Regions from separate parts of the Homo sapiens genome. Here region 1 is linked to region 2. Evidence: fine-mapped expression QTL. A gene starts in region 2. The other region holds a variant in brackets. All regions are shown on one strand. Distances are from middle to middle. Region 1 has its middle 46 kb from the start of ATF7IP2. Region 2 holds the start of TVP23A (trans-golgi network vesicle protein 23 homolog A).

What was found.
Region 1: its variant is fine-mapped to the expression of TVP23A in ovary (GTEx, PIP above 0.99).

What each region holds. Positions count from the first base shown.
Region 1 is chr16:10,331,879-10,348,071 of GRCh38, forward strand. No RefSeq gene overlaps it. Among named protein-coding and RNA genes, the nearest start is that of ATF7IP2, 46 kb to the right of the region's middle. The variant A/G (reference allele first, on the strand shown) is at 7,336.
Region 2 is chr16:10,811,316-10,827,508 of GRCh38, forward strand. It overlaps TVP23A (trans-golgi network vesicle protein 23 homolog A), which reads right to left and starts at 7,479. Exons shown (of 8, transcript NM_001079512.4): 1 at 7,170-7,479; 2 at 6,788-6,867. The coding sequence starts at 7,178. RefSeq lists enhancers at 1,847-1,896, 10,017-10,226.

The sequences.
Region 1 (16,193 bases), 480 kb before region 2:
AGACAGGGTTTCACCATGTTGGTCAGGCTGGTCTCAAACTCCTGACCTTATGATCACCGGTCTCCTCAGCCTCCCAAAGTGCTGGGATTACAGGCATGAGCCACTGTGCCTGGCCTCAGAAAGCCCATGATTTTGTGCTATGAAATCAAAAGGCTGGACCTTGTAAAGGAGCCAGTGGTCACCTCCAGCTCCCCTTTAGCTCCTATGTGGGCTCTTTGGCTGGATCTAGACACCAAATTGACACCATGCAGATTAACAAAAGTATATACATTTTATTAGTTTTACCTGTACATGGGGGTCTTCATAATAGCGTGAAGTTCAAACAAGTGGCTAAAGATAGATGCTTGTATACTATTTGTACACTATTTAGATTACATTTGAGAAGAAATGACAGGAAAACCTGGCTAGGGCAATAAATTTTCTAGGGGAGTTGCTAGGAGATATATGGGGGTGTCAAACAGTGGAAGATAAAGATTGTTTCATTAAGTATGTTTATTCAGGTCCATCACAGTCCCCAATTCCCAGTCTCTGGTGATAAGGGCTATTTTCTCACCCTGGTATGTGACAGCCCTCCTCCCAGAGGAATTTTTATGGCCTGCTGCATGCACAAAGAGAGAGGTCAGTTAGCCCTTTTTAATTTTTTTTTTTAGAGCAAGGTCTTGCTCTTGCTCTGTCACCAGGCTGGAGTGCAGTGGCATGATCATAGCTCACTACAGCCTCAAACTCCTGGGCTCAAACCATCCTCTTGCCTCAGCCACTCAAGTAGCTGTGATTACAGGCATGCTCCACCAAGCCCAGATAATTATTTCACTTTTCTTTTTATAGAGATAGGGTCTTGCTATGTTGCCTAGCTGGTCTCAAACTCTTGGGCCCAACCAATCTTCCTGCTCGTGAAGAATCACATTCTTGGGCCCGAGCACGGTGACTGACACCTGTAATCCCAGCACTATGGGAGGCCAAGGCAGGCACATCACTTGGGCTCAGGACTTCAAGACCAGCCTGGCCAACATGATGAAACCCCTTCTGTACTAAAAACACAAAAATTAGCTGGACGTAGTGGTGTGTGCCTGTAATCCCAGCTACTCAGGAGGCTCAGACAGGAGAACTGCTTGAATCTAGGAGGCGGAAGTTGCAGTGAGCTGAGATCACGCCACTACGCTCCAGCCTGGGCAATAGAGCAAGATTCCATCTAAAAAAAAGAATCATTTTTTTGTTTCTTGTGAAGATCCCCATGTACATGTAAAACTAATAAAATGTGGGCCGGATGGGGTGGCTCATGCCTGTAATTCCAGCACTTTGGGAGGCTGAGGTGGGCAGATCACAAGGTCAAGAGATCGAGATCATCCTGGCCAACATGGTGAAACCCCGTCTCTACTAAAAATACAAAAATTAGCTGGGCGTGATGGCGCATACCTGTAGTCCCAGCTGCTTGGGAGGCTAAGGTAGGAGAATCGCTTGAACCCGGGAGGCGGAGGTTGCAGTGAGCCGAGATCGCACCACTGCCCTCCAGCCTGGGTGACACAGAGAGAGACTCCGTCTCAAAAAAAAAAAAAAGTGTATATTTCCTCTTGAGTGGGTGTGGTGATGCACACCTACAGACCCAGCTACTCAGGAAGCTGAAGTAGGACAAATGCTTGGGCCCAGGAGGTGAAGGCTGCAGTGAGCTGTGATTGCGCCATTGCACTCCAGCCTGGGCAACAAAATGAGACTCTATCTCAAAATAAATAAAACAAGCAAACATACCAACCACAATTTCATCAATGTTTTCAACTCGAAATAATCAATATGCCAATCTAGCATATTTTGGGTTGGCACGTTCTTCACTCCTTCAACTTTTTGTGGGGCCTGTTATGTTTTTAAGGAGACACCCTGGGAGGAAGGAGGAGAAGGCCATCGCCTCCCCCCTCATTATTAAACAAAAAAAAGGTTGCTCCCCTTGTCCCTCCTCTGTCCCACTGGTGCCTCTTCTGTCAATTCTGCCAAGATTCCACCCTCAACTCCAAATCAAGAAATGCATCTGAGGCCACTATATGTGTAAAAAACCTTCCTGAAGGGCAGGAGAACTCAGGAGGCATTATACATTTCATCCATGCACTATCAACCAACACTGGGGAGCCACAAACAAAGGGAGGGACTTTTATTTTATTTTATTTTTATTTTTTTGACACAGAGTCTCGCTTTGTCATCCAGGGTAGAGTCCAGTGGCACGATCTCAGCTTACTGAAAGCTCTGCCTCCAGGGGTTCAAGTGATTCTCCTGCCTCAGCCTCCCGAGTAGCTTGGATTACAGACATGCGCCACCACACCCGGCTCATTTTGTATTTTTAGTGGAGACGGGGCTTCACCATGTTGGCCAGGCTGGTCTCGAACTCCTGACCCTGTGATCTGCCCATGTCGGCTTCCCAAAGTGCTGGGATGACAAGCGTGAGCCACCGTGCCCCGCCCATTTTATTTTTGAGACAGAGTCTCGATCTGTCACCCAGGCTGGAGTGCAGTGGAGTGATCTCAGCTCCATGCAATCTCCACCTCCCAGATTCAAATGATTCTCCCACCTCAGCCTCCTGAGTAGCTGGGACTACAGGCATCCGCCATCATGCCCGGCTAATTTTTGTATTTTTGTAGAGATGGGGTTTCCCCATGTTGGCCAGGCTGGTCTGGCATTCCTGACCTCAGGTGATCCACCATCCTTGGCCTCCCAAAGTGCTGGAATTACAGGCGTGAGTCACTGCACCTGGCCCAGGAAGGCATTTTAATCAGGGTTTTTATGCATTGCAATTTGGGAGAAACAAATCTAGCAAGTAGCTAAAACGTGTTTCAGCCAGGCAAGACTCTAGGCAGGGGTTTCTAAAGGTTTACTGCAAGTTTACCTAAGCGGAAGACAGTAGCACAGTCTGTGATTGACACATGACCTGTCAACCTCAAAGGGAGAAGCTGAGACAATATTAATATAAAGTTTATTTGGGTCAAGGTTGAGGGCAGCAGTCCAGGACACACTTCCAACTTGCTGTGGGGCGTGCTCCAGAGGACATTAGAGAGGCTGAAGTTTTTAAAGAAAAAATAACCAATGAGGAGAGAGGGTGATTACAAACATTGTTAGGAATTCTCATGGGTTTACAGAAATAACATTGGCTAGTGATTGGCTATATATTGGTGAACTGTAGGGCATTTGGTATTTTAGGGGTACGTGGCCTTAGTTAAGTGTAGAAGCCACACAGCAAGTGGCTTCAAGAGGTGATTATTATTTGGCTGGGTGCAGTGACTCAAGCCTGTAATCCCAGCACTTTGGGAGGTTGAAGTGGGAGGATGACTTGAGCCCAGGAGTGTGAGACCAGCCTGGGCAACATAGGGCGACTATATCTCTGCTGAAAACTTTTTAAAAATTTAGCCGGACATGGTGGTGCACACCTGTAGCCCCAGCTACTCAGGGGTGAAAGCCAGAGGATTGCTTGGGCCTAAGAGTTTGAGACCAGCCTAGACAACACAGTGAGACCCTGTCTCTACAAAAAATTTAAAAATTAGCCATGCATGCTGGTGTGTGCTTGCAGTCCCAGCTACTCAGGAGGCTGAGATGGGAGGATCACTTGAGCCCAGGAGGGGGAGGCTGCAGTGAGCTGTGACGGTGCCACTGCAGTCCAGCCTGGGCCACAGAGGCGGACCCTGTCTCTGAAAAAAAAAAATAAAAAATAAGGTGATTATTAATTCAAAGGGAAGTAACCTAACTGCTGTTTCATTTCAATGCCTCTTTGGCCTGATGGCTTAAAGGGGCCTGTATTCCTTGAATAAAACATTTCTTCTTGTTTTTTTCATTTGTTTGTTTTTTCCTCCCCCTATAGGCCAGCTGACAGCTTAGAAAGACTCTAGGCCATGATCAGCTTAAAATTCAGCACAGCTGTGTCTTCAGGAGGTTCGTGATCTGCCCCAGTGTGAGCAGTTCAAACCCAATGAAGCTGCTTCTCCAGAACGTTTGCGATCTGGCCCAGTTCAAACAGGTCAGATCCCTCTGGATCCATATATGACTGAGGGCCAACTTTTGCCCTCCTGGCTCCTTGACAGAGACCTCCGACAAATCATCTCCACGTTGGCTTTCTTTCTTTTTTTTTTTTTTTGAGACGGAGTTTTGCTCGTTTCCCAGACTGGAGTGCAATGGCGCAATCTCGGCTCACCGCAACCTCCGCCTCCTAGGTTCAAGCGATTCTCCTGCCTCAGCCTCCTTAGTAGCTGGGATTACAGGCATGTGCCACAATGCCCAGCTAATTTTGTATTTTTAATAGAGACAGGGTTTCTCCATGTTGGCCAGGCTGGTCTCGAGCTCCCGACCTCAGGTGATCCGCCCACCTCGGCCTCCCAAAGTGCTGGGATTGCAGGCGTGAGCCACCACGCCTGGCCTCCATGTTGGATTTCTTTTCACAGCACTGTGTCAAAATATAGCAGGAATTATTGCAACAGCAACTGTTATTAATCACACCGTAGAGCAAATCATAAGAAAACTGCAAGAACATCTTTTTTTTTTTTTTTTTTTTTTTGAGACAGGGTCTCACTTTGTCTCCCAGGCTGCAGTGCAGTGGCATGATCAGGGTTCCCTGCAGCCTTGACCTCCCAGGCTCAAGTGATTCTTCCACCTTAGCCTCCTGAGTAGCCGGGACTACAGGTGAGCGCCACCAGGTCCTGCGAATTTTTGTAGTTTTCATAGACACAAGATTTTGCCATGTTGTTCAGGCTGGTCTCAAACTCCTGGGCTCAAGCTAACCTCACAAAGTGCTGAGATTAGAAGTGTGAGCCACCATGCCTGGCACCAGAAGATCTTATATGCCATACGTCTTTATATATTCACAGTAGCAATGGGTAAGTATATTCCGGTAACATTTTTCAAAACTTCCCCACCCACAGCCAACCCTCCACCCTTGCTATTCTTTTTTTTTTTTTTTTTTTTTTTTTGAGATGGCATCTCTCTCTGTCACCCAGGGTGGAGTGCAGTGGCGCGATCTTGGCTCGCTGCAACCTCCGCCTCCTGGGTTCACGCCATCCTCCTGCCTCAGCCTCTCCAAGTAGCTGGGACTACAGGCGCCCTCCACCACGCCTGGCTAATCTTATTTTTTTGTGTGTATTTTTAGTAGAGACAGGGTTTCACCGTGGTCTCGATCTCCTGACCTCGTGATCCGCCCGCCTCAGCCTCACAAAGTGCTGGGATTACAAGCATGAGCCACTGCGCCCAGCACTTTTTTTTTTTTTTTTTGAGGCAGAGTCTTGTTCTGTCATCTGGGCCAGAGTGCAGTGGCATGATCTAGGCTCACTGCAACCTCTGCCTCCTGGGTCCCAGTGATTCTCCTGCCTCGGCCTCCCCAGTAGCTGGGATTACAGGCATGCACCACCACACCCAGCTAACTTTTTATATTTTTGGTAGAGATGGGGTTTCACCGCATTGGCCACGCTGGTCTCAAACTCCTGACCTCAAGTGATCCGCCCACCTCAGCCTCCCAAAGGGCTGGGATTACAGGTGTGAGCCACTGCACCTGACCCAAGTTCTTTAAGTGCACTTCCTCTTAAGTGCACTTCCAAAATTCACATCCAAAATAGTTTTAAAACTAAATTGATTTTTTTCCCCAGTGAACTCATTTGGTAGCAAAGCCTGACTTGTGACTATTTATGGTGTGGAGGAGGAAAAACTTTTCCTCTACCCTTTTAGGTTCTTTTGGGTGGTGGGGGGTGTGGCGGACTGCGAATTAAGGTGAAGAAAGCTAGATTAACACGAGAAAAACGGCTTATATGTATGCAATACAGGAGCCAACAAAAGAAGTAGCTTGCAGGCCGGGCGCGGTGGCTCACGCCTGTAATCCCAGCAATTTGGGAGGCTGAGGTGGGTGAATCACCTGAGGTCAGGAGTTCAAGGCCAGCCTGGCCAACATGGCGAAACCCCATCTCCACTAAAAATACAAAAATTAGCTGGGTGTAGTGGCACACACCTGTAATCCCAGCTACTTGGGAGGCCGTGGCAGGAAGACTGCTGCAACCCAGGAGGCAGAGGTTGCAGTGAGCCAGGATCACGCCACTGCACTCCAGCCTAGGCAACAGAGTGAGATTCCGTCAAAAAAAAAAAAAAAAGAAGTAGCTTGCTGACCAGGTGCAGTGGCTCAAGCCTACAATCTAGAAATTTGGGAGGCTGAAGCGGGGAATTGCTTGAGCTCAGAAGTTTGAGACCAGCCCAGGCAATATGGTGAGACCCCATCTTTACAAAAAAAAAAAAAATTAGCTGGCTGTGGTGGCATACACCTGCATCAACTACTGGGGAGGCTGAGGGGTGAAAGGATTGCTTGAGCCTGGGAGGTCGAGGCTGCAGTGAGCCATGATCATGCCACTGCACTCCAGTCTGGATGACAGAGTGAGAATGTCTCAAAAAAAAAAAAGTGGCTTGTACATTAAATGATTAGAGTTAAAGGCTTATACACCTAAGGGAAAAGGGAGGGGAGAGAAAAGGCTCTTATGAGAAGAACAAATAGGTTTCTTTAGGAAAGATAAATAGGATTTTAGGAGAAAAAATGAGAAGTAAAGTCTGCGGTAATGTTTGTTTATGCAGGTGCAAGTGTCTTTCTTGTTCTTGGCTATGATGCTCTCAAAGAGAGAGGGTTTATGGTAGCCTTATTTCCCAGAAGATGCTGCTTTTAGTCAAATGAAGGCAGCTCCCAGAAGGCTTCTTTCCACATCTGTTGAATCTCAAATGTCTTCAGCTTAAAATAATAAGCAAGCTAGGGCTGGCTGTCAGCTGGGAACCCAGCCAGGTCTGGGAGGGAGGGGTTCAGTTCCTTTCCACACCAGCTCTCTGCAGGCTATACGGGCTTCCTCACAGCATGGTGGCTGGGTTCCTAGACCAAGGGACAAGAAGCAAAAGCTGCCCCTGTCTAAAGGTGGGCCCAGAAGCTAGCACAGCATCAATTCTACTTCATTCTAGTGGTTGAGTCATTAAATATGAGTATCCACAGGCCTGGCGGGGTGGCTCACGCCTATAATCCCAACACTTTGGGAGGCCGAGGTGGGCAGATCACGAGGTCAAGAAATCGAGACCATCTGGCCAACATGGTGAAACCCCATCTCTACCAAAAATACAAAAATTAGCTGGGCATGGTGGCATGCACCTGTAGTCCCAGATACTCGGGAGGCTGAGGCAGGAGAATTGCTTGAACCTGGGAGGCGGAGGTTGCGATGAGCTGAGATTGTACCACTGTACTCCAGCCTGGGTGACAGACCGAGAGTCCGTCTCAAAAAAAAAAAAAAAAAAAAAAAAGATCACCAGTCACAGATCTTGATGGGGGCAGGGCCATGGAATTTCAGGATCTGGTTTTAA[A/G]TTGCCATACGGCCCTATTCATTCTTCAAGTAGAAGTTCCAATACCATCCCTTCCAAGAAGTTTCCTACACTCTTGAAAGAGTGCATGGGACTGGGCACAGTGGCTCATAACTGTAATTGCAGCACTTAGGGAGGCTGAGGTAGGAGGATTGCTTGAGGCTGGCAGTTTGACACCAGCCTAGGGAACATGGCGAGAGCCTGTCTCTACAAAAAATGAAAAGTGAAAATTAGGCTAATTTTGTACACCTGTAGTCCTAGCTACTCAGGAGGCTGAAGTGAGAGGATTGCTTGAGCCCAGGAGTTTGAGGCTGCAGTGTGGTATGATCATACTCCAGCCTGGGTGGTAGAGTGAGACCTTGTCTCTTAAAAAAAAAAAAATCTTCTAAAAAAGTGCAAAGTGCTCCTCCTTTGTGTTTACCTGCAGTGCATAGTGTTACACACATCTTTATAAGGGAACACCTGAGTAGGATTAGTGTGAGCAACAAGGCTGTTTACTTGGGTGCAAGTCGGCTGAGTCTGAGAAAGGAGTCAATGAAGGGTGGTGGGAGTGGAACTGGTTTTATAGGTTTGGGGTAGGAAGAGGAAAGTTACATTTAGGGGCAGTTTTTTTGGGCAGGGGAAGAATGTCATAAGATGCATAGTCATGAGGTAGGGGGAGGTCACAAGGCACCGTATCACAAGGTCGATTGATTAGTTAGGGTAGGGCAGGAACATATGACAATGGTGGAATGTTGCAAATTTGGTTAATCAGTTAAGGCAGGAACTAGCTGTTTCTTCTTCTTTAGTGGTTCTCTTGTTGCTCCAGGCTTTGTGACTCCAGGAGGCCTGTATGTGTGGGTCACAGGGGTCACAATGGCTTGACCATGGTGTAGCCCATTCAGAGGACCTTACATGTAGAGAACCTTACTTTTTTAAGAATTAACTTTAAGGTGGTATTGAAGCAGAAGACATAAAAAGAAAAACAAGTTTTCCTGTACTAGGCTGACTCACTCAAAGGCCCAGCAATGGGCAGGGCTCTGTTGGGACTTTGATAGCACTATCTACAGAGGCAGGGCCCAGAAGGGATGGGATCCAGAGCCTCTCCCTCCCATCCCAGAGCAGGGATGAAGAAAACAAGTTTTTCTTTCAGCTTCCCCCTTCAGATTCTTCCCCCTTACCGTTGTTCCTTGTTCTGTTCTCATAATTATTTTTGCAAGTTTTGTAAGTTCCTGTTTTTCCCTTCTGTGCAGCACGGCAAGGTCACAAGATAAGTTTGAGTTCTAAAACCTATCACTGTTTGACAAACTGCCTTTGTTCTGCTTCTGTAAGCTCGCTTGCCTGCTCTACAGGTTTCGCGCCATCAAACCGGCCAACCCCATTTCAGATGCATGTATAAAAGTCAAGCCCTGTCTTTGCTCAGGGCTCAGCCTTTGGATGTTAATCCACTGGGCTGGTGCTCACCTAATAAAATCCTCATGTCCCACCCATTGGTCTCTCCTGTCCCTTGATTCCTGCAACAGTGTAACTTATAATAAAATTCCCCTATTTTGGCTGGGCACAGTGGCTCATGCCTGTAATCCCAGCACTTTGGGAGGCTGAGGTGAGTAGGTCACCTGGGGTCAGGAGTTTGAAACCAGCCTGGCCAACATGGTGAAACCCCATCTCTGCTAACATACAAAAATTAGCCAAGTGTGGTGGCAGGCACCTGTAATCCCAGCTACTTGGGAGGCTGAGGCACAAGAATGGTTTGAACCTGGGAGGCGGAGGTTACAGTGAGCCAAGATAATGCCACTACACTCCAGACTGGGCAACCGAGCAACACTCTGTCACAAAAAAAAAAAAAAAAAAAAAAAAAAACCTATTTTAAAAAGTATACAGGTCAGGTGTGGTGGCTTACACCTGGAATCCCAGCACTTTGGGATGCCAAGGCAGGTGGATCACTTGAGGTCAGGAGTTCAAGACCAGACTGGCCCACATGGTAAAACCCCATCTCTACTAAAAATTACCAAAAAAATATTAGCCAGGCATGGTGGTGCATGCTTGTAGTCCCAGCTACTTGGGAGGCTGAGACAGGAGAATTGCTTGAACCTGGGAGGTAGAGGTTTCAGTGAGCTGAGATCACACCACTGCACTCCAGCCTGAGCAACAGAATGACACTCTGTCTCAAAAAAAACAAAAGTGTACCATTTCGTGGGTTTGACAAATGTGTACACCTGTGTAATAGCCACCACAATCAAGATACAGACTATTTCTATTACCCCAGAAAGTTATCTCAGGCCCTATAGGAAATGTCTTATGTCTTTTTTTAAAAATTCTTTTTTTTTCTATTCTTTTTTTCACTCTTGTTGCACTGGCTGGAGTACAATGGCTCAAAGTTGACTCACCGAAACCTCCGCCTCCCGGGTTCAAGTGATCTCCTGCCTCAGCCTCCCAAGTAGCTGGGATTACAGACATGTTCCACCACACCCAGCTAATTATTTTTAGCTCTGTTGCCCAGGCTGGAGTGCAGTGAAGCAATCTCGGCTCACTGCAACCTCTGCCTCCTGGGTTCAAGCGATTCTCCTGTCTCAGCCTCCTGAGTAGCTGGGATTCCAGTCACCCACCACCACACCCAGCTAATATTTGTATTTTTAGTAGCCATGGGGTTTCTCCATGTTGGCCAGGCTGGTCTCAAACTCCTGACCTCAGGTGATCCGCCTAACTTGGCCTCCCAAAGTGCTGGGATTATAGGCATGAGCCACCACACCCAGAGATAACATCACTATTATAGTGCCTAAGATTGTAAATGTTTTTCATACTTTTGCATTCTGACAATCAATTGACCCTACCTGGACCTGTGACTCATGACTCAACCAGTCCTGTGGCCCTCAGCCAGAGGCAGACTGAGTGCAAGAGGACCGTTTTTCATACCGCTATGATTTCATCGCCCACCAATCAACAACACCCATTCCCTAGCCCCGCTGCCCACCAAATTATCCATTAAAACACAACCTCTGAGTTCTCAGGAAGGCTGATTTGACTCATAATCTCTGGGCTGCATTCCCAGATGGTTAAGGCATTCTAAGTCACAGGATGAGACAGGAGCTCAACACAAAATACAGGTCATAAAAACTTTGCTGATAAAACAGTTTGCAGTAAAGGAGCTGGCCAAAACCCAGCAAAACCAAAATGGTGATGAGAGTGACCTCTGGTCATCCTCACTGCTACACTCCCACTAGCGCCATGACAGTTTACAAATGTCATGGTAATGTCAGGAAGTTGCCCTATATGGTCTAAAAAGGGGAGGCATGAATAATCCACCCCTTGTGTAGCATATTATCAAGCAATAACCATAAAAATGGACAACCAGCAGCTTTCACAGCTGGTCTGTCTACAGAGTAGCCATTCTTTTATTCCTTTACTTTCTTAATAAATTTGCTTTTACTTTGCTGTGCGGACTCTCCCTGAATTCCTTCTTGCGTGAGATCCAAGAACCCTCTCTTGGGGTCTGAATCGGGACCCCTGTGCTGTAATGCCCCACTGCCACACAGCCTCTTCCATAGAAACTGAAGTTCCTCCATCTGCCTAAGATCTAGACCCCCCACAGAGAACAATTGGTTTTTCTTTCTCTCCCTTTAAGGCTAATAATTTAACCACACCTGAACAGTATAATGACTGTCTGCAAGGATCATTTAAATCATAAAGAGAATTGTTTAGAAGTTAATCTATGCTCCACTCATTCTTCCTAGTAACCACTCCACCAAATTCCTCCTATCCTCCCTCCCATCACCTGTTTTACCAGGATCCAAGCTCATATTCTCTCTGTAACCTCAAGATGAAATAGAAGCCTTTTTACTTCACTGGGATGTCAGATCTTCATTTTGAAAGCTCTCATGTAAGGCTGAAGCAGGAGATATAAAAAGAAAACATGAATTTTTGCTTTAGGCAGCTCCCCACCCACTCCCTGCTATTGCACCCTGTTCTGTAAGTTCTGTAGGCTTGTAAATTCCTGTGTTCCGCAGCTGGTTTCTGTAAGTACCTGGTCTCCATCAAGGCAGCACAGCGAAGGTCACAAGATAAGCTTGAGCAAGCCTAGATTGCAGCCATCTGGGCACCACAGTGAAGGTCCCAAGATAAGCCTGAGCAAACCTAAATTACAGCCATATGGGCCATACAGCAAGGGTCAGATGACATGCCTAAGTGAGCCTGACTTGCAAGCCTGTTACTGTTGATAAACGGTCCCTGTTCTGTTTCTGTAAACTTGCTTTCACACCACTGCATTTTGCGCCACTGTAAGCTTGTTTCAAACTAGCCAACCACCCTTCAGATGCATGTACAAAAGTCAAGCCGTCTTTGTTCGCAGCTCAGTCTTTTGGATGCAAATCCACTGAGCTGGTGCGCACCTTAATAAAATCCTTCCGTCCCACCCATTGGTCTCTCTGGTCTCCTGATTCCTGCAACAAGGCTAGGCAAGGTGGCTCTTGCCTGTAATCCCAGCACTTTGGGAGGCCAAGGCAGGTGGATCAGCTGAGGCCAGGAGTTCGAGACCAGCCTGGACAACATGGTGAAACCCTGTCTCTACTAAAAATACAAAACTTAGACCAGTATGGTGGTGCGCACCTGTAATTCCAACTACTCAGGAGGCTGAGGCAGGACAATCACTTGAACCCAGGAGATGCAGGTTGCAGTGTGCTGAGATTGTACCATTGCACTCCAACCTGAGTAACAAGAGTGAAACTTCATAAAAAAAAAACAAGAAGGCTCCTTGGTATATGTGTTAAATAAATGTGTATGCCTTTTCTCCCACTTCTCAAACTACCTCATGTCAGAGATTTTTCAGCAAGCCTTTAAGGGACAAAGTGCCTTGGCCTTGGAGTGATACAGCTGCAGATCAAGGAATGCCAAGGAACACCTGGAGCCACCTTTCTAGAAGAGGTGAGGAAGGATCCTCCCCTGAGGCCTTCAGAGCAAGCATGGCCCGACCAACACCTTGAATGCAGACTCCAAGCCTTCTAAACTGTAAGAGAATACATTTTTGTTTTTTCAGGTCACCCCATTTGTAGTAATTTGTTATGGTTGCCCTAGGAAATGAATATGTTACCAGAAAGAGGTCCCAATCCAGACCCCAAGAGAGGCTTCATGGAATTTAAGCAAGAAAGAATTTGGGGTGAGTCCACAGAGTAAAGTGAAAGTAAGGGAATAGGCCCAGCACGGTGGTTCATGCTGTAATCCCAGCATTTTGGGAGGCCGAGGCAGGTGGATTGCTTGAGCTCAGGAGTTTGAGACCAGCCTGGCCAACATGGTGAAACCCTATCTCTACTAAAACACAAAAATTAGCCAGGCATGGTAGCAGGAGCCTGTAATCCCAGCCACTCTGGTGGCTGAGGCAGGAGAATCACTTGAACTCGGGTGGCAGAGGTCGCAGTGAACTAAAATTGTGCCACTGCACTCCAGCGTGGGTGATCGAGTGAGACCTTGTCTCAAAAAAAAAAAAAAAAAAAAAAAGTAAAGGAATATAAGGATAACTACTGCCTAGACAGAACAGGGTGTTCCCAAAAGCAAGAGAAGGAAGGTGCCCACCTTAGGTACAATGCCTGTTTATATATAAGACAAGCCAAAAAATCAAGGGGGAGATTTTCTCTAATGCAAGCTCTTGTGACAAAGAATTGTTAACCTTTGTGTAACTACAGACTTTTGCAATAATCTATTTATTTATTTATTTATTTATTTATTTATTTATTTATTTAAGACACATTCTTGCTTTGTCACCCAGGCTGGAGTGCAGTGGTGCAATCTTAGTTCACTGCAACTTTCACCTCCCAAGTTCAAGTGATTCTCATGTCTCAGCCTCCCCAGTAGCTGGGACTACAGGCGAGCACCACCACACCTGGCTAATTTTTGTGTTTTTAGTAGAGTCAGGGTTTCACTGTGTTGGCCAGGCTGGTCTCGAATTCCCGAGCTCAAGTGATCTGCCTGCCGTGGCTTCCCGAAGTGCTGGGATAACAGGCATGAGCCACTGTGCCCAGACTGAAATCTTATCTTTAAAATGAAACTTATTCTCGAAAAGAATGCTTTTGTCTTTAAGATATCAGGGCATTGGGACATTTCTTGGGTTTGTTAAGTCCTGGATATGTTTAGTAAACTTTTTTTTTTTTTTTTTTTTTTGAGATGGAGTCTCGCTCTGTCACCCAGGCTGGAGTGCAGTGGCGCAATCTCGGCTTACTGCAACCTCCGCCTCCCAGGTTCAAAGGATTCAACTGCTTCAGCCTCTCGTGTAGCTGGGACTACAGGCATGTGCCACCACACCCGGCTAATTTTTTATATTTTTAGTAGAGACAGGGTTTCATCATGTTAGCCAGGATGGTCTCAATCTCGTGACCTGGTGATCTGCTGGCCTCAGCCTCCGAAAGTGCTGGGGTTACAGGTGCAAACCACCACACCTGGCCTATGTAATGTCTTTGAGATTCATCTGTGTTTTTGTATTGCTCCTTTTCATTGCTCAGTAGGATTCCATTCAAGAATGTGCGTAAATTTGTCCAATTTTGTGTTGTGGATATTAAAATTGTTTCCAGAATAAATCTGCTAATGATATTCATCTCAAACATTTTTTGTGACTGTAGCTCTCTGGGATAGATACCTAGATATGAAAATGCTGAGTATGCAGCCATAAAGAAGAACAAAATCATGTTCTTTGCAGCAACATGGATGCAGTTGGAGGCAATTATCCCAAGGGAATTAATGCAGGAACAGAAAACCAAATACCGCGTGTTCTGACTTTTGAGTGGGAGCTGAACACTGGTTACTCATGGACATAAAGGTGCCAACAGTAGACACTGGAGACTCCTAGAAAGGGGAGGCAGGAGAGGAGGCAAGGGCTGAAAAACTCTCTATTGTGTATTATGCTCAGTACCTGGGTGATGGAATCAATTGGACCCCAAATCTCAACATCACACAATATGCCCAGGTAACAAACTTGGTCGTGTACCCCTGAATCTAAAACAAAAGTTGAAAGTATTTTAAAAAGAAAGAAAAAAAGAAATGGCTGAGTGGTATGGTAAATTTATGTTTAATTTTATTTAAAAACAAAACAGAAAAGCTGCCAAACTGTTTTCCAAAGTGGTTGCACCATTTTATGTTTCCACCAGCAGTGCGTGAGAATCCGGCTGCTGTACATCTTCCCCAACACTTGGTACTGCCAGTCGTTTTAATTGTTGCCTTTCTAGAGGATGTATAATGTCATCATATCATGGTTTTATATGGGATTTCTCTGATGACTGTGAGGACTGTGTTGAGCACCTTTTCATGTCATTATAAGTCATTCCTAGGTAAAGTGGAATAAGTTAACTTAAATACAAAGGCAAAAAACAACTTTATTAGTCTGTTCTTGCATTGCTATAAAGCACTACCTGAGACTGGATAACTCATAAAGAAAAGAGATTTAATTGGCTCATGGTTCTGCAGGCTGTACAAGAAACACGGCTGGGGAGGCCTCAGGAAACTTACAGTCACGGCAGAAGGCAAAGGGGAAGCAGGTACATCTTACATGGCTGGAGAATGAGGAAGAGAGAGAAGGAAGAGGTGCCACCCACTTTTAAACAACCGGATCTTGTGAGAACTCACTCACTATCATGAGAACACCAAAGGGGGAGTTTGCCCCCATGATCCAATCACCTCCCACCATACCCCTCCTCCAACATTGGGAATTACAATTTGACATGATATTTGGGCAGGGACACAAATCCAAACCATGTCAGTAACCAAATTTTGAAAAGCTCACAAGCTTCCAACTTGTGCCCCAGAATCTCTAGGCAATGGATTAAAGGATGCATGCCTCTACTGGATAGTGTTGTCTACTTCCTGATGTCCAGAGGTGTGGTGAAGCCTCTCCTAGCATCCTCAGTTTGTAGAAAAGACTATGCAGGCTGGGCACGGTGGCTCATGCCTGTAATCCCAGCACTTTGGGAGGCCAAGGCAGGTGGATCAAAAGGTCAGGAGTTCGAGACCAGCCTGGCCAACATAGTGAAACCCCGTCTCTACTGAAAATACAAAAATTAGCTGGGCGTGGTGGTAGGCCCCTGTTGTCCCAGCTACTCAGGAGGCTGAGGCAGGAGAATTGCTTGAACCCGGGAGGCAGAGGTTGCAGCGAGCCAAGATTGTGCCACTCCACTCCAGCCTGGGAGACAGGGTGAGACTCCACCTCAAAAAAGAAAAAGAAAAAATCCATCCATGTACTTTTAGACATTTAAGTTTTCTCTGTATATCAGCTATTGTGAATGATGCTCCCAAGAAACATGAGAGTGCAGACATCTATTTGGCATACTGTTATCATTTCTTTTGGGTATATATCCAGCAGTAAGATGGCTGGATCATATGGTAATTCTAGCTGTAGTTTTTGGAGGCACCTCCATCCTGTTTTCCAGAATGGCTTTACTGATTTACAATACCACCAATAGTGTATATTGGTTTCCTTTTCTCCACATTCTTGACAAAACTTGTCTTTTATCTTTTTAACAATAGCCAATCTAACAGGTGTGAGGTGATATCTCATTGTGTTCTTAATTTGCATTTCTCTGGTGATTAGAGATGTTGAGCATTTTTTTCATATATCTATTGGCCATTATATATATATGTGTGTACATATGTGTGTGTATATATGTGTGTGTGCATATATATGTGTGTGAATGTGTATCTATTTATATTATATATGTATGTGTATATATGTGTGGGTGTGTGTGTATATATATACATATATATATTTTGAAACAGGGTCTTGCTATGTTGTCCAGGCTGGAGTGCCATGGTGAGATCTCGGCTCACTGCAACCTCTAACTCCTGGGCTCAAGTGATCCTCTACCTCAGTCTCCTGAGTAGCTGGGGCCACAAGTGCACGCCACCATGCC
Region 2 (16,193 bases):
TAGAGTGCAGTGGTGTGATAATGGCTTACTGCAGCCTTGACCTCCCAGGCTCAAGCAATCTTCCTACCTCAGCCTCCCAAGTACCTGGGACTACAGGTGTGTGCCACCACGTCTGGCTACTTTTTGTATTTTCTGTAGATAACGGGGTTTTGCCATGTTGCTCAGGCTGGTCTCAAACTCCTGGCCTCAAGCAATCCACCTGACTCAGCCTCCCAAAGTGCTGGAACTACAGGCATGAGCCACAGTGCCTGGCCATGAATTATATTATATTAAATTAAACACACACACACACACACATACACTGACACTAAAAGCAAAGGAAACAAAAGGTACAAATCGGCCACTTTAGGAGGCCGAGGCGGGCGGATCACGAGGTCAGGAGATCGAGACCATCCTGGCTAACATGGTGAAACCCCGTCTCTACTAAAAATACAAAAAGTTAGCCGGGCATGGTGGCTGGCACCTGTAGTCCCATCTACTCGGCAGGCTGAGGCAGGAGAATGGCGTGAACCCGGGAAGTGGAGCTTGCAGTGAGCCAAGATCACGCCACTGCACTCCAGCCTGGGGGACAGAGCAAGACTCCGTCTCAAAAAAAAAAAAAAAAAAAAAGTACAAAAAGGCAAACGGAATTACATTAAACCTAAAAACTTTTGTGCATCAGAAGACACAACCAACAGAATGAAAAGGCAGCCTATAGAATAAGAGAAAATATTAATATACAGAATAAAGACCTCAACAACAAAAATCCGATAACTGATTAAAAAAAACGGGCAAGAGACTTGAATAGACATTTCTCCAAAGGTGATATACAAGTGGACACATAGCACATGAAAAAATGCTCAGCAGCATCATTAACCATTAGGGATATGCCAATCTACACCACAACGAAATACCATGGTTATCACACCCATGAGGTGGTTACTATCAAAAACACAGTCAATAACAATGTTGGCAAGGATGCGGAGAAACTGGGACCCTTGTACAGTGTTGATGGGATTGTAAAATGGTGTAACTGATGTGGAAAACAGTATGGTAGTTCCTCAAAAAATTAAAAATAGAACTACCATAGGATCCAGCAATCCCACTTGTGGGTATATGGCCAAAAGAATTGAAAGCAGAATCTCAAAAAGAGATTTGCATACCCACATTCATTGCAGTACTGTTCTCAACAGCAAGAGGTACAAGTGTACCCAAGTGGATGAATGGGTCAACAAAACATAGTTTATTCATATCATGGAACTATTATCCAGCCTTAAAAAGGAAGGAAATTCTGGCACATTTTGTAACATGGATGAAACTTGAGGACGTTATGCTAAGTGAAGTAAGCCAATAAAAAAAGGACAAATACTGTATGACCCTTTTATGGGGTCCCTAGAGTAGTCAAATGCATACAGACAGAAAGGAGAATGGTATTTACCAGGGGCTGGGGGAAGGAGAGTTGTTAAACGGCACAGAGTTTCAGTTTTGCAAGATGAAAACACTCTGTTTCACAACGTGACTATACTTGAACTACTAAACTGTATAATTTAAAATGACTAAGATGGAATTTTACGCTGTGGGTTTTTTTTAATCACAGTTTTTTAAAGTTGAAAAAAAAAGTAAAAAGAAATAAAAAGTTTGCCCACCGGGGAAAAACACATACAGCATGGCTAACATTTCCTCTGTGTGCCCAGCTCTGCTGTGGAATCACACCCTCCACTGATCCTGCAAGATGTGATGTACTTCCCAGGCCCCCCACCGCAACACTGCACCTCACTGACCTGGAACCAGGGACAGAAAGAGCAGAGACCAGAGCTCCATCCCCAGGGCTTAGCCCAGCACCTGCCCCTGGCAGATGTTGAATAAATATTTAGTAAATAAACTGTATAATAACCACGTGGTGAAGTCAGGCTGATACAATTATCCCCATTTTACCGACTGGCCAATGGAGGCCCAGCAAAGTAAGGTGACCTGTCCAAAAATCACAAAGCCAGAAAGTGATAAAGGAAGAGATGAACCCAATGTCCCAGACTCCTGTGACAGGCCCCCTTCCACAGCATCACCTCCTTTCGATGTCAGCCTGGAATCCATTTCAACAAGGGATTTACAAATAACTGTTTTCACTCTATACTAGCGATTCTTAACTTTTTTGGATCATGGGCCCATTTGATAATCCAATTAATGTTTGGATCCTTTGGGAGCACTTTGGGAAGATGAGGCAGAGAGATCGCTTGAGTCCAGGAGTTTGAGATCAGCATGGACAACATAGCAAGACTCCGTCTCATAAACAAACAAATAAACAAATAAATAAATAAAGTTTGGATCCTTTTTCTAAAACAACACACATATGAAACTTAGATAATAGTTTTCAGAGGTTTCCTGAACCCCTGAAGCCCATCTGTAGACCTCAGTTAAGAATTCCCTTTCTAGGCCGGGCATGGTGGCTCACGCCTGTAATCCCAGCACTTTGGGAGGCCAAGGCACTAGGATCACTCAAGATCAGGAGTTCAAGCCTGGCCAACATGATGAAACCCTGTCTCTACTAAAAATACAAAATTAGCCAGCGTGGTGGCACGCACCTGTAATCCCAGCTACTCAGGAGGCTGAGGCAGGAGAATCACTTGAACCCGGGAGGCAGAGGTTGCAGTGAGCCGAGATCGCACCACTGCACTCCAGCCTGGGCAAAAAGAGTGAAACTCCATCTCAAAAAAAAAAAAAAAAAAAAAAAAAAAAAAATTCCCTTTCTACACTGCAATCTGGGTAAATTCATTTGTTCTCAGGATTTTAGAGCCATCTCTACATTCCTACACATCAGAATCAATGGGGTGCTATTTTAAATTCATGTTCCTAGGCCCATCCCCTGTGAATCTGGTTAAATAAGTCCAGGGCCAGACCCAGGAATCTGCATTAGGCACACCGAGGATTCTGGGATGGGTGGCTCTCAAACATACCCACCTGGATACATGAACTGCTGCCTCCCAGATCTCTGATTGCAGCCCTGGTGACTTCTCGAGCTCCTGGCCTCTCCTCCCAGCTGTCCACTGGCTACTAGAATGTTCCAACACAGACTAACAAGGACCACTCTGAGTTCAACATCTTTCCCCCAGAAGTGCTTCTTCACCTGACTCACCAGACCACCAGCCTGAGTGTCACCCTGATGATCCCTGTCCCTACCCCACATCTTGACCACCAGCAAGGCGGGCCGATTCTACCTCCCCTGTGCCTCTGGGCCCCTTTCCTCTGTCATCCCTGCCAGTGCCTTGGTCTGATCTCCTATCCTACTTCCACCCCAACAACCCAGCCTCCATCACTGCCCTGAGCAAAATCCTTCCATGGTGACCGAACTCTGGAACTGCCCTGCCCAATGCCACAGCCACATGTGGCTATTTACATTCAAATTAATTAAATAATATCAAAACATTTGTCCCTCAGGCGCCCTGGCCACATTTCAGACATTTAATCACCACAGGTGGCTGAGGCCACCGTGCTGCACAGCACAGATAAAGGCACAGCCCCATCCTCATAGAAGGTTCAGTGGACAATGCACCTCCAGAGCTTGGAGCTTGGTTGCTAAGTGCTGCAGGGTCTGGCCCCGATCTCCACGCAGGCCACTTCCCAGCACCTGGGTCTTGAGCCACATGGAACCACCCTAAATTCATGACCTTACCTCCAAGCCTCCCCATGGTATATCTACCCTTCCCAGCCTAACCAACTCCTACCCTACCTGTGGGTCCCAGCTTAGCTGGTACCTCCTTCTCTGGCCAGGATAGGAGCCCCAGCTTCTGCCTATCCCAGCGTTTAAAATACTGAGTTCTGGCCAGGCACAGTGGCTCACACCTATAATCTCAGCACTGTGGGAGGCTGAAGTAGGTAGGTAGGGAGGCTGAGATCAGGAGTTTGAGACCAGCCTGGCCAACATGGCGAAACTCCATCTCTACTAAAACAAAACAAAACAAAAAACATAAAAATCAGCCAAGCGTGGTGGCGTGCACCTGCAGTCCCAGCTACTTGGGAGACTGAGGCGGGAGAACTGCTTGAACCCAAGAGGCAGAGGTTGTAGTGAGCCGAGATTGCACCACTGTGCTCCAGCGTGGGTGACAGTGAGACTCCATCTCAAAAACAAAAACAAAAACAAAACAAAACAAAAATACTGAGTTGTAATAGCCACTGGTATGCCTACTCCCACCCTGCAAACCAGTGGTTTTCAACCGGGGGCAAGTTTGCCCCACAGAGGATATTTGGCAATGCCTGAGACTTTATGGATGGGCTGCTACTGGCATCTGGTGAATAGAGGCCAGGAATGCTGCTAAACATCCCACGGTGCACAGGACACTCCTTACAGCAAAGAAGTATCTGGCCTAAAATGTCTGGAGTGCTAACATTAAGCAAACCTGCCCTAGATTGGGCAATCTGTAAAGGCAGGAGTGGGGTCCTGAACACTGCATTTCCCCAGCCACTAGCCCAGAGTTGAGCATACAGTAGATACTCAATAGAAATTGAACACATATGAGTTCAGATGTTCTAGAAGATTCTTTACCCAGGATTCCAGTTCTTTTGGAATCTTCATTTGCAGTGTCTTCCCTTAAAGATAATCATTGGCCATTATGGTGGGATGAATAATAGCCTCCGAAAATATCCAGGTCCTGGATGGGTGCAGTGGCTCATGCCTGTAATCCCAAGGCTTTAAGAGGCTGACACGGGAAGAGTACTTGAGGCCGGAAGTTCCAGATCAGCCTGGACAACATACCAAGACCCCATCTCTACAAAATTAAATTTTTAAAAAATTAGCCTGGCATGGTGGCAACACCTATAGTCCTAGCTACTAGGGAGGCTGAGGCAGGAGGAACTCTTGAACCCAAAAGTTTGAGGTTCCAGTGAGCCATAATTGTACTACTGCACTATATAGCCTTGGCAACAGAGCAAAACCCTATCTCAAAAAAAAAAAAAAAAAAAAGAAATCCAGGTTCTAATCCCCAGAAATTGTGACAGCCACCATATATGATGAAAGGGACTTTGCAGATGTAATTTAATTATTTAATTAAGAATTTTTTTTTTTTGAGACAGGGTCTCACTCTGTCGCCCAGACTGGAGTGTAGTGGTGTGATCTCAGCCCACTGCAGCCTCTACCTCCCGGGTTCAAGTGATTCTCCTTCCCCAGCCTCCTGAGTGGCTGAGATTACAGGTGCATGCCACTACACCCAGCTAATTTTTGTATTTTTTGTAGAAACAGGGTTTCACCATGTTGGCCAGGCTGGTCACAAACTTCTGACCTCAAGTGATCTGCCCGCCTTGGCCTCCCAAAGTGCTGAGATTACTTACAGGTGTGAGCCATGCACTCAGCCTATAATTAAGGATCTTGAGATGCAAAGGTTATCCTAGATTATCTGGGTGGACGCTAAATGCCAACACAATAGTCCTTATAAGAAAGAGGCACGGGGGAAGTGGGGAGGGATAGCATTAGGTGATATACCTAATGCTAAATGACGAGTTAATGGGTGCAGCACACCAACATGGCACATGTATACATATGTAACGAACCTTCACGTTGTGCACATGTACCCTAAAACTTAAAGTACAATAATAATAAAAAATAAATAAAATAAAAAAAAAGAAAGAGGCACAGGGAAACTTCACACACACACACACACACACACACACACACACACACGTCACCTGACCATGGAACAGAGAGAGATGTGAACATGCTATAACACTGGCCTTGAAGACGGAGGAACAGGCCACAAGCCACAGAATGCCAGCAGTCACCAAAAGCTGGAAAAGGCAAAGAATGGATTTTCCCCTAATTCTTCCGAAGGGAGTGTGGCACTGCTGCCACCTTGGTTTCAGCCCAGGAACACTGACTGTGGACTTCTGGCCTCCAGAACTGCAGGAGAATAAACTTCTTTTGTCTTAAGCCAAGATGATAATGGTAATTTGTTCTAGCGGCCATAGGAAACTAATACAGTCTATTACTTTCTGGGGTTTATTAGGTTTGAATCAGAGAGTTTGATTTTAAAAACAGAGACTTTACAAGGAATGGCATTTGGGTGCCAGGGCTCGTCCCATGCCTACTGGCTCTGATAGCTGGAAGCAGAACTGGGTGGGTGAGTGAGGCTGAGCTGTGGGTGTTTCTAGAAGTGGCTGCCGCCTGGGCCATCGGCAACCACGTTCACAGGTCATCCCTCATGCCTTGGTCATGCCACCTTCTGGGATGCTAGAGGTCTCAGGCAGTTAAGTGACTTGACCCAGGACAAGTCTGTCTAGCTAGACTCAGCAGGGATTAGAATAAAACTCCAAGCTCTCTTCCACTTGTCCAGCCCACTGCCAAGCTTGCTCCCCTCTGGCCTCAGTGGCTTTCTCTGATCTTACAACATAGCCCCAGGGCCTTTGCGCTTGCTGTTCCTTCAGCTTGGAACACTCTCCCTCTGGAGTCTCCCATGGCTGGCTGCTTCTCATCATTCTGGTCTCAGCTCAAATGCCACCTCCTCAGAGAGGCCCTCCATGGCTGCACTAAGGCAAGTGGCCTTCTCTAGTTACCTTCTCTTTCATCACAGGGCTGATTTTCTTCTCACATTCAATTATCTCATTAATCTCCTTGCCTGTTCAACATCAACTCCACCCCTTCTTCCTCCCTCTCCCAATGCAGGCTCCAGGAGGGCAGGGACTTTGTCTGATGTGTCCACAGATATGTCCCCAGCCCCAGACCTGGCACACAGTAGGTGCTCAATATATTTTGAATGAATGAGTGAGTAAATGAATGAATTTGCAGCTTTGGGGAACGCCTGACCCAAGCTCCATCCCAACACACCTGATCTTGGCTTTCCTAAAGGCCAGCTCCTCCTCGTTTCCAAAGTCCAGGGACACATCCTCGGTATCGTCCACCAGGGCCTGGGAGGAGAGCAAGGGCAGGTGGCAGGCCCAAGCACGGCGCACACCCCAACCCCACCCGCCCTGTCCTCCTGGGCTTGGACTCCACTTGCACCCCACCGGGTTCCCAAGTGGACCCTCCGAGCTGGCGGGGCCCCTCCGCTGCGGCTGCAGTGCAAAGCCCTCTCCACCCTCCCGACCACCGGGTGCAGCCCAGCCCCAGGCCCCGGCGCATCCCTCCTCCTCCTCCCGGCTTCTCCAGCGCTCCCGCAGGCTCCCCTCGTCCCGCCCCGCCTCCAGCCCCAGCATCCCCGAGGCCCTACCTGCTTCATCACCCTCCCAGGAGCCCACCTGGCGCCCAGGCCCGGGGCTCCAGCTCCGCCCGTCGCCGCTGAAGGGGTCGGACGCCGGGCGGGCGGATGTAGGCAGCAGACGGTGGACGCTGAGGGTCGGGGCCTGCGCCCTGTGGGGCAGCCTCAGCGCAGCTTCTCGGGTGGGGCGGGGCGCTCGGGGCCTAAGGCGCAGTCGCAGGCTGGGGAGGGGGCTCGGCTCGCCGGGGACGCGCCCAGGAGAGAAAGCGGCGGCAGGGAGGCAACGGCCTGGGGAACTGCGGACAGAGATAGTGGGAGGAATGGGAGTCGGGGGCGGGGGGCGGCTGCGTCAGCGAATGGTGTGGACGGCGCATAAACGTGGATGTAGCGAATGATAAGGCAGTGAATGAATGTCAGTGGTGGGCAGCCGCATTCAGGGTTGGGAGAAGGTCAGTGTTTCCCAACAGTCTCTGCGCGCAAGAAATTCCCAGGAACCTTGTGAAAAGCAGATTCTCAGGCCCGGCCCGGGGGATGTGGAAGGCCTGGAGTGGGGCCCTAGAATCTGCCTTCCCCGCGCCCCCACCCCCCACGACAAAATGCAGTTAGGATGGGCCCTGCTGTGTTCTTTTTTGGGGGGTGGGGTGGGGAAGGCAGATTCTAGGGCCCCACTCCAGGCCTTCCACATCCCCCGGGCCGGGCCTGAGAATCTGCTTTTCACAAGGTTCCTGGGAATTTCTTGCGTGCAGAGATTGTTGGGAACATTCTCTGCACCTAGGCTGGAGAGCACTGGTGCCATCGTAGCTCACTGTGGCCTCAAACTCCAGGGCTCAAGCAGTCCTCCCGCCTCAGCCTCCCGAAAAGCTGGGACCACAGGCTGCACCACCACACCTAGCTAAATTTTTATTTTTGTAGAGAGGAGGGTCTCACTATGTCGCCCCGGCTAGTCTTGAACACCGAGGTTCAAGCCATCCTCCTGCCTCAGCCTCCCAAAGTGTTGGGATTACAGGAGTGAGCCACCACACCCGGCCTCACCTGCCTTTTAAGGGGTGGCGCTGCTATAGCCACAGCTTCAGAACCACAGTGAGATCTGCGTGCATCGCCGTGCCAGGCACTTATTAAGCGCAAAGTTATTAGTAGTATTAATACTATTATTGACAGTAATAGTAGTGTTTCTTGAAGTGAAAGTCTTCCTGGGTACCTCCCAGGAAAGAAAACTTGTCACCTGAGGGTCTTTCCTGGCCCAGGACACAGTGACTCTCCTCTCCTGCGTGCCCTCTCCCTGTCCTGATCCCCCACCCACGGACAGAGGGCTGAGCATCGAGATGCCAAAGCCAGTGACCCTGCCCTTTGCCCTCCCACCATGGACAATAGGTACGTGTCCCCTGCCCCTGGTGACCCCAAAGAGGGCTCCTGGGCCACAAGCCCCTGACACATTTTCCCCACTGCTGGTCTCCATGGGCGGAGGTGGAGGCAGGAGCTGTCTCATCTCTGATCCTGGGCCTGGGTTCCAGGCTTTCTGTCCTCCGCCCCCACCCCAATTCCCTAAGCTGACCCCACAAGGGCCTGCCAGGTGTGTGTGGAGGGAAAGTGCTTTCTCCTATGCCATTTCTCTTTTTTTTTTTTTTTGAGATGGAGTTTCCCTCTTGTCACCCAGGCTGGAGTGCAATGGTGCGATCTCGGCTCACTGCAACCCCTGCCTCCCGGGTTCCTGCAATTCTCCTGCCTCAGCCTCCCAGGTAGCTGGTATTACAGGCGCCTGACATCAACCCGGGTAATTTTTGTATTTTGTATTTTTAGTAGAGAGGGGGTTTCACCATGTTGGCCAGGCTGGTCTCCAACTCCTGACCGCAGGTGATCCACCCACCTTGGCCTCCCAAAGAGCTGGGATTACAGGCATGAACCACTGCACCCAGCCTCTACTATGCGATCTTCAGGAACCAAGATTTATATATATACAATGTGTATATATGTGTGTGTGTATGTATATATATATATATATATATATATATATATATATATATATATATATGTATATGTATATATATTTGCCAAACTCTGCTGCGATTTGGATAGCTTCTAAAAGACACACTGCCCAGATTGTGTTATGGACCAATTAAATCAGGCTCTCTGGGGATGGGACCCTATACCAGTGCTTTTAAAGCTCCCAGGTGTTGGGCTGCAAGGTAAAGAACCAGTGATTTAAATGAGTGCTTCTGACCCCTCAATCTGCAAATGAATCTCCTGGGGTTGGCTTAGAAGCTGGATGCTGACTCAGCGTTCTGGGGGTCTGGGGGTCTGGGCAGGGGCTGAGATTCTTTCTTCCTTTCTTTCCTTCCTTTCTTTTCTTTTCTCCTTCCTTCCTTCCTTTCTTTCTTTCTTGAGATGGAGTCAGTGGCTAGATCTCAGCTCACTGCAACCTCCACCTCCTGGGTTCAAGTGATTCTTGTGCCTCAGCCCCTTAAGTAGCTGGGACTACAGGAACATACCACCACGCCTGGCTAATTTTTGTGTTTTTAGTAGAGACAGGGTTTCACCATGTTGGCCAGGCTGGTCTCGAACTCCTGACCTCAAGTGATCTGCCTGCTTCAGCCTCCCAAAAGGCTGGAATTACAGCCGTGAGCCACCACATCCGGCTGAGATCCTGCATTTCTGAGAGCCCGTGGGAGAAGCTGATGCTGCTGCTCCCTGGACCACCCTTTGAATTGTAAAGATCTAAACCACCAAGGCCTGGTTTTCTAGAAAGGCCTGTGAGCTCTTCCTGCCCAGAAGGGTGAACGGAGAGGCCCACTCCCAGCGGGGCCCCAGCAGCCTGGGAAGGGGATATTGGGAGGAAGGAGGCAGGAGGGCAGCTGGAGGGAAGAAGCCGTTGCAGAACATTTAGGGGCTTTTTCTCTGACCCTAAGAATCACCAGCTGTTGGTGTCTGTTGAGTTGGGGTTCCTGGAGTCATGGGAAAACCCCCGTGGAATCCCCAGTCAGGACCAACTGTCATTCTCAGCCACTGGGTTGGAGGTTCCTCCAGAAATATCCTCAGCTCCTGCCATCTGGAGGTGGCTCTATAAATACAGGGTCACTTCCATCCCTCCTGACCTGTCCACATGGGGCAGAGGGCTGAGGATACAGATGCTGGGGCCACATATGAAGCCCTATTATTCCCTCCTTGGAAGAAAGCACCCTCCCTCTACACGTGGCCCAGACGGCCCTCTGTGGGGTCAGCTTCCTGAATCTGAGGGGTGGGCAGAGGGCCTGAGGGTTGCACAGAGAACTCATCTTGGTTTTAAAACTGGCTGCGGCAGAGACACCTGGTTGAAAGGTAGATTTTAGGCCGGGCACAGTGGCTCACACCTGTAATCCCAGCACTTTGGGAGGCCGAGGTGGGTAGATCACTTGAAGTCAGGAGTTTGAGATCAGCCTGGCCAATATGGCGAAACCCCATCTCTACTAAAAATACAAAAAATGAGCCGGGCATGGTGGCGCAAGCCTGTAATCTCAGCTACTCAGGAGGCTGAGGCAGGAGAATCGCTTGAACCCGGGAAGTGGAGGTTGTGGTGAGCTGTGATTGCGCCACTGCACTCCAGCCTGGGCCACACAGTGAGATTCAGTCTCGGAAAAAAAACAACAAACAAACAAACAAAAGGGTAGATTTTAGGATCTCACTCTAGGTTTTCTGAACCTCCAGGGTTGCGGCTTGGAGATCTGCCTTAATAAGAGCCGCAGAGAGGGCTTGGAAGCCCGACCTTTGGGAAACACTGGCCCTCTCCCCTCCCCCTACCCACACTGGTCTTGGCCCCTGAAGGATTTGGGGAGTAGACCTGTGAGAAGCAACCCCATCTCCGATCCCTGCAGCTGGGCTTGGGACCTTGAAGCCAGAACAACCCCAGGGAAGGAGGTCCAGGCTCAGGTAGCCACTGGCCTCTGGCTGACCTTGGAGGTCAACATCTGGAGTCTGCAGGCTTTGTTGGGGAGGGGACAGGTCACCTTAGGCAGGGGACTTCACCTCTCTGGCCTCAGTCTCCACATCTGTAAAGTGGCGCCATACTTTCCCCCTACCTGGCAAGGATGATGAAGGACCAGAGAAAACATGTCAGATTCCTTTCTCTGAATAGGGGCTCAGGAAACAGCGGCCTTGTTGACAGTGACTTAAGGTCATCAGCAGAGGGGTCTCGGGTCAGGAGCCCCCATGGGCCAGCAGCACACAGGACAGGAGCCTCGTGTCAGGGGCCTCTGCTGGGGATATCTGTCTTCCCAGCAGAACAGGGCTGGCCTTTCCTGAGTGGCTCCTGTTGGCCTCACACTGCGTGCCCCCGGGACATAGGGCACCTGGACAGAGGTACACACACAGTCTTTCTCTCCAGTGACCCCAGGAGTCCTGGACCAGGAGGCAGAGGCTTGGGTGTGAATTCTGGCAAACACAGGTCAGGGTGCTGGAACCCAGAGGCTGGAGGAGAACATTCGGCCAGGGGAGGAAGGAGACGTCAGTCTGGCAGGACCATGGCAGGCTGTAAGACACGCAGAGTGTTTGACTCTTTAGCTGCGAGCAAAGGGCAGTTGGCATAGAGGGTCAGTGGGGAGTGGAAAGAGTTTGACTACATCTGGGGCCTGAAAAGGCCCAAGATGCACTCCGTGTCCCCACCAGGCAGGATGGAAGTGGCAGCCCCCAAACCTGTCACACCAAAGCCAGCAGCTGCTCATCACCCTCAGCCCAGCATTCCTATGAGTGGCACTCCCTACGATCCCACTGGCCCCTAAGATCTGCACCCCACTCCCTGGCATCTGACGACGATCCTGTCATTTCTCCCCAGGTAGGGTTGCCAGATCTAGCAAATAAAAATAAGGGAACTCAGGCAGGGCATGGTGGCTCACGCCTGTAATTCCAACACTTTGGGGGAGGCCAAGGCAGGCTGTTCATTTGAGGTCAGGAGTTTAAGACCAGCCTGGCCAACATGGTGAAACCCCATCCTGATTAAAAATACAAAAATTAGCTGTACGTGGTGGTGTGCACCTGTAATCCCAGCTACAAGGAAGGCTTAGGCAGGAGAATTGCTTGAACCTGGGGGACAGAGGTTGCAGTGAGCCAAGATTGCCCCACTGCACTCCAGCCTGAGCGACAGAGTGAGACCCTGTCTCAAAAAAAAAAAAAAAAGAAAAAAATACAGAAACTGAGCTAAATTAGAATTTGAAATAAATGACAATTTTTTTAGTGCAAGTATGTTCCATGCAATATTTGGGACATAATTATACTTAAAAATGATCACTTGTGGCCGGGCATGGTGGCTCATGCCTGTAATCCCAGTACTTTGGGAGGCTGAGGCGGGCAAATCACGAGGTCAGGAGATTGAGACTATCCTGGCTAACAAGGTGAAACCCCATCTCTACTAAAAATACAAAAAATTAGCCAAGCTTGGTGGCACGCGCCTGTAGTCCTAGCTATTCAGGATGCTGAGGCAGGAGAATCACTTGAACCAGGGAGGCGGGGGTTGCAGTAAGCCAAGATTGTGCCACTGCACTCCAGCCTGGGTGACAGAGCAAGACTCCGTCTCAAAAAAAAAAAAAAAAAAAAAGATCACTTGTGTTATTTCCAGTTCAAATGTATCTGGGTGGCCCCTATTTTCTGGCAGTCCTATTGTAACCATACACAGGCTCGGCTGCTGATCACTTACAAAGCCAATAACAAGGACGAGATGCAGTGAAAGGAAAGTGACTTTATTCCAGGGCTAGTGGTGGGGAAATGGCCCAGGCTTGTGTTTACAGGAACCATTTCTAACTTTAGCCTGGGGAGAGGGACTTAAAAAAAGGGCACTTGGAAGGTTGGGCATAGCGGTGGCTCACACATGTCATTCCAGCACTTTGGGCGGCCAAGGCGGGAGGATCATTTGAGCCCAGGACTTCGAGTCTAGCCTAGGCAACATGGCGAGGTCCTGTCTCTACAAAAATAAAAAAATTAGCCAGCCACAGTGGCACACACCTGTACTCCCAACTACTCTGGAGGCTGAGGCAGGAGGATCACTTGAGCCCAGGAGGTTAAGGCTGCAGTAAGGTGTATTTGTGCTACTACACTCCAGCCTGGGCGACAGAGCTAGACCCTGTCTCAAAAAATAAAATATTTTAAAAAGGGAACCTAGAACGGGAGTGGTGCCGGGTACAAAGCCAGTTTGTCTTGTTCCAGCGGCTATCTCGAGCCTTGCTCCACCTGAAGCATAGCCTGGCATCATCCCAACCATGGCCGGGTTGTTGACAAACCACCTAGAGATAATCTCTGGAATTTTGCAGCTGGGTCTCCAAGACTGATATGTTTCAAGGTTAGCTCCTGGAACTTCTAAGTGAACACATAATTAATACAAGCATACAGCCAGATAAATGTGCATGGGATAAGGGAGAGAGACAGAGTTTGAAAATACAGTTCAAGGCTATATTTTAAGACTAAGGAGGGAGGCCGAAGGGGAGGATCACAAGGTCAGGAGTTCGAGACCAGCCTGGCCAGTATGATGAAACCCCGTCTCTACTAAAAATACAAAAAATTAGCTGGGCATGGTGGTGCACACCTGTAATCCCAGCTATTTGGGAGGCTGAGTCAGGAGAATCACTTGAACCCAGGAGGTGGAGGTTGCAGTGAGCCGAGATCATGCCACTGCACTCCAGGCTGGGCAATAGAGCGAGACTCTGTCTCAAAAAAAAAAAGACTAAGGAGGGAAAAAAAGGTTTCTGCAGTTTGTTTTGACGTTACATCTTGAGACTAAGGAGAAAAGAGAAAAAGGGAAAAAAGTATAAAATGCGTTTTGAGGCCTGGCACAGTGGCTCATGCCTGTAATCCCAGCACTTTGGGAGGCCCAGGCCAGGTGGATTACTTGAGGTCAGGAGTTTGAGACCAGCATGGCCAACATGATGAAACCCCATCTCTGCTAAAAATACAAAAATTAGCTGGGCGTGGTGGTGGGTGCCTGTAATTCCGGTTACTTGGGAGGCTGAGGTAGGAGAATCACTTGAACCCGGGAGGCGGAGGTTGCAGTGAGCCGAGATTGTGCCACTGCACTCCAGCCTGGGGAACAGAGCAAAAAAAAAAAGCATTTTGAAGCCAAGCTACTCAGTTACGGTATGACTCCAGGCCAGGGGACATCCAGGCCCACGAGGTTGGGGGGCTCCCACCCTCCTGTTTGTATGGCTGCCCCTGTGACTGTCACACTGCTGCCTGTTTCACAGAGGCTCCTTTCAGGTGACCTAGTCCAGTCCTTCTTCAGGCTGGCAGCCAGTGCAGGTTACCCAGGAGGGCGGAGCAGAGGGCCAAGGGAAGAAGGAGGGTCCCCTCCCGTGGGCTGCCTTCAGGGCCCCATCCACCTTGTCAGGCGCAGGGAGTGGTACATGGAAATAGCCCTGGATTTCTACCCAGACAGACCTGGGTGCAAATCCTGACACCAGCTGTGCCCAGCACGCTGGTGTGGACATGGACGCAGCTCTTAGCAAGAGATATAAGCTGCTGATTGCTGACCCTCTTTAGGCCAACTTTCTAGTTACAGACAAATAAATACAGCCAAGTGAAAAAACAACAAACTAGAGCTTGTCAAAAGTGCACTAAATGCCCCCATGCAAAGCTGTGCTGTCTAATCCAGGAACCACAAGTCATTACTGAGCCCTTGAAATGGGGTAAGGCTGGATGGAGATGGGCTATCAGGGCAAAGTACACAGCAGAGATTGAAGACTTGTTAGGAATAAAAGGCCGGGCGTGGTGGCTCACGCCTGTAATCCCAGCACTTTAGGAGGCCGAGGCAGGTGGATCACCTGAGGTCAGGAGTTCGATACCAGCCTGACCAATATGATGAAACCCCATCTCTACTAAAAATACAAAAATTAGCCAGGTGTGGTGGCGGGCACGTGTAGTTCCACCTACTTGGGAAGCTGAGACAGGAGAATTGCTTGAACCCAGGAGGCAGAGGTTCCAGTGAGCCGAGATCGTGCCATTGTACTCCAGCATGGGCAACAGAGTGAGACTCTGTCTCAAAAAAAAAAAAAAGAAAAGAAAAAAGACTTGGTAGGAATAAAAGAATGTAAAATAATAATATTGAAATCATGTTTTAATTGTTTACATGCTGTAATGATAATCTTTTAGACATAGTGGATTAAAGAGAATGTATTATTATAATTAACAGCCTGGGCAACATAATGAGACTCTGTCTCTACACAAAAATAATAATTAAAAAAAAAAATTAGCCTGGCGTGGTGGTGCATGCCTGTAGTCCCAGCTATTCACGAGGCTGAGGTGGGAGGATCACTTGAGCTGGGGAGTTAGAGACAAGCCTGGACAACATAGCAAAACCCTGTTTCTATAAGAAATACAAAAATTAGCCCGGCATGGTGGTGTGCGCCTGTAGTCTCAGCTACTGAAGAGCTGAGGAGGGAGGATTATTTGAGCCCAGGAGGTCAAGGCTACAATGAGCCGTGATTGCACCACTGCACTTCAGTCTGGATGATAGCGAAAGCCTGTCAAAATTAAAATAAACGTCCAGGCACTGTGGCTCATGCCTGTAATCCCAGCACTTTGGGAGGCCGAGGTGGGCAGATCACTTGAGATCAGGAGTTCGAGACCAGCCTAGCCAACATGGTGAAACCCCGTCTCTACTAAAAAATACAAAAATTAGCCAGGTGTGGTGGTGCACACCTGTAATCCCAGCTACTCTGGAGGCTGAGGCAGGACAGTCGCTTGAACCCAGGAGGTGAAGGCGTCAGTGAGCCAAGATCACACCACTGCACTCCAGCCTGGGGGACAAAGCAAATAAATTTTACCTTTTTTTTTTTTTTGAGTTGGGGTCTCACTATGTTGCCCAGGCTGGTCTCAAAATCCTGGGCTCAAGTGATCCTCCCACCTCAGCCTCCTGTATAGTTGGGACCATAGGCACATGCCCACTCTGCCTAGCTTATTTTATTTTATTTATTTATTTATCTATTTTGAGACAGAGTCTTGCTCTGTCACCCAGGCTGGAGTGCAATGGCACCATCTCAGCTCACTGCAACATCCGCCTCCTGAGTTCAAGCAATTTCCTGCCTC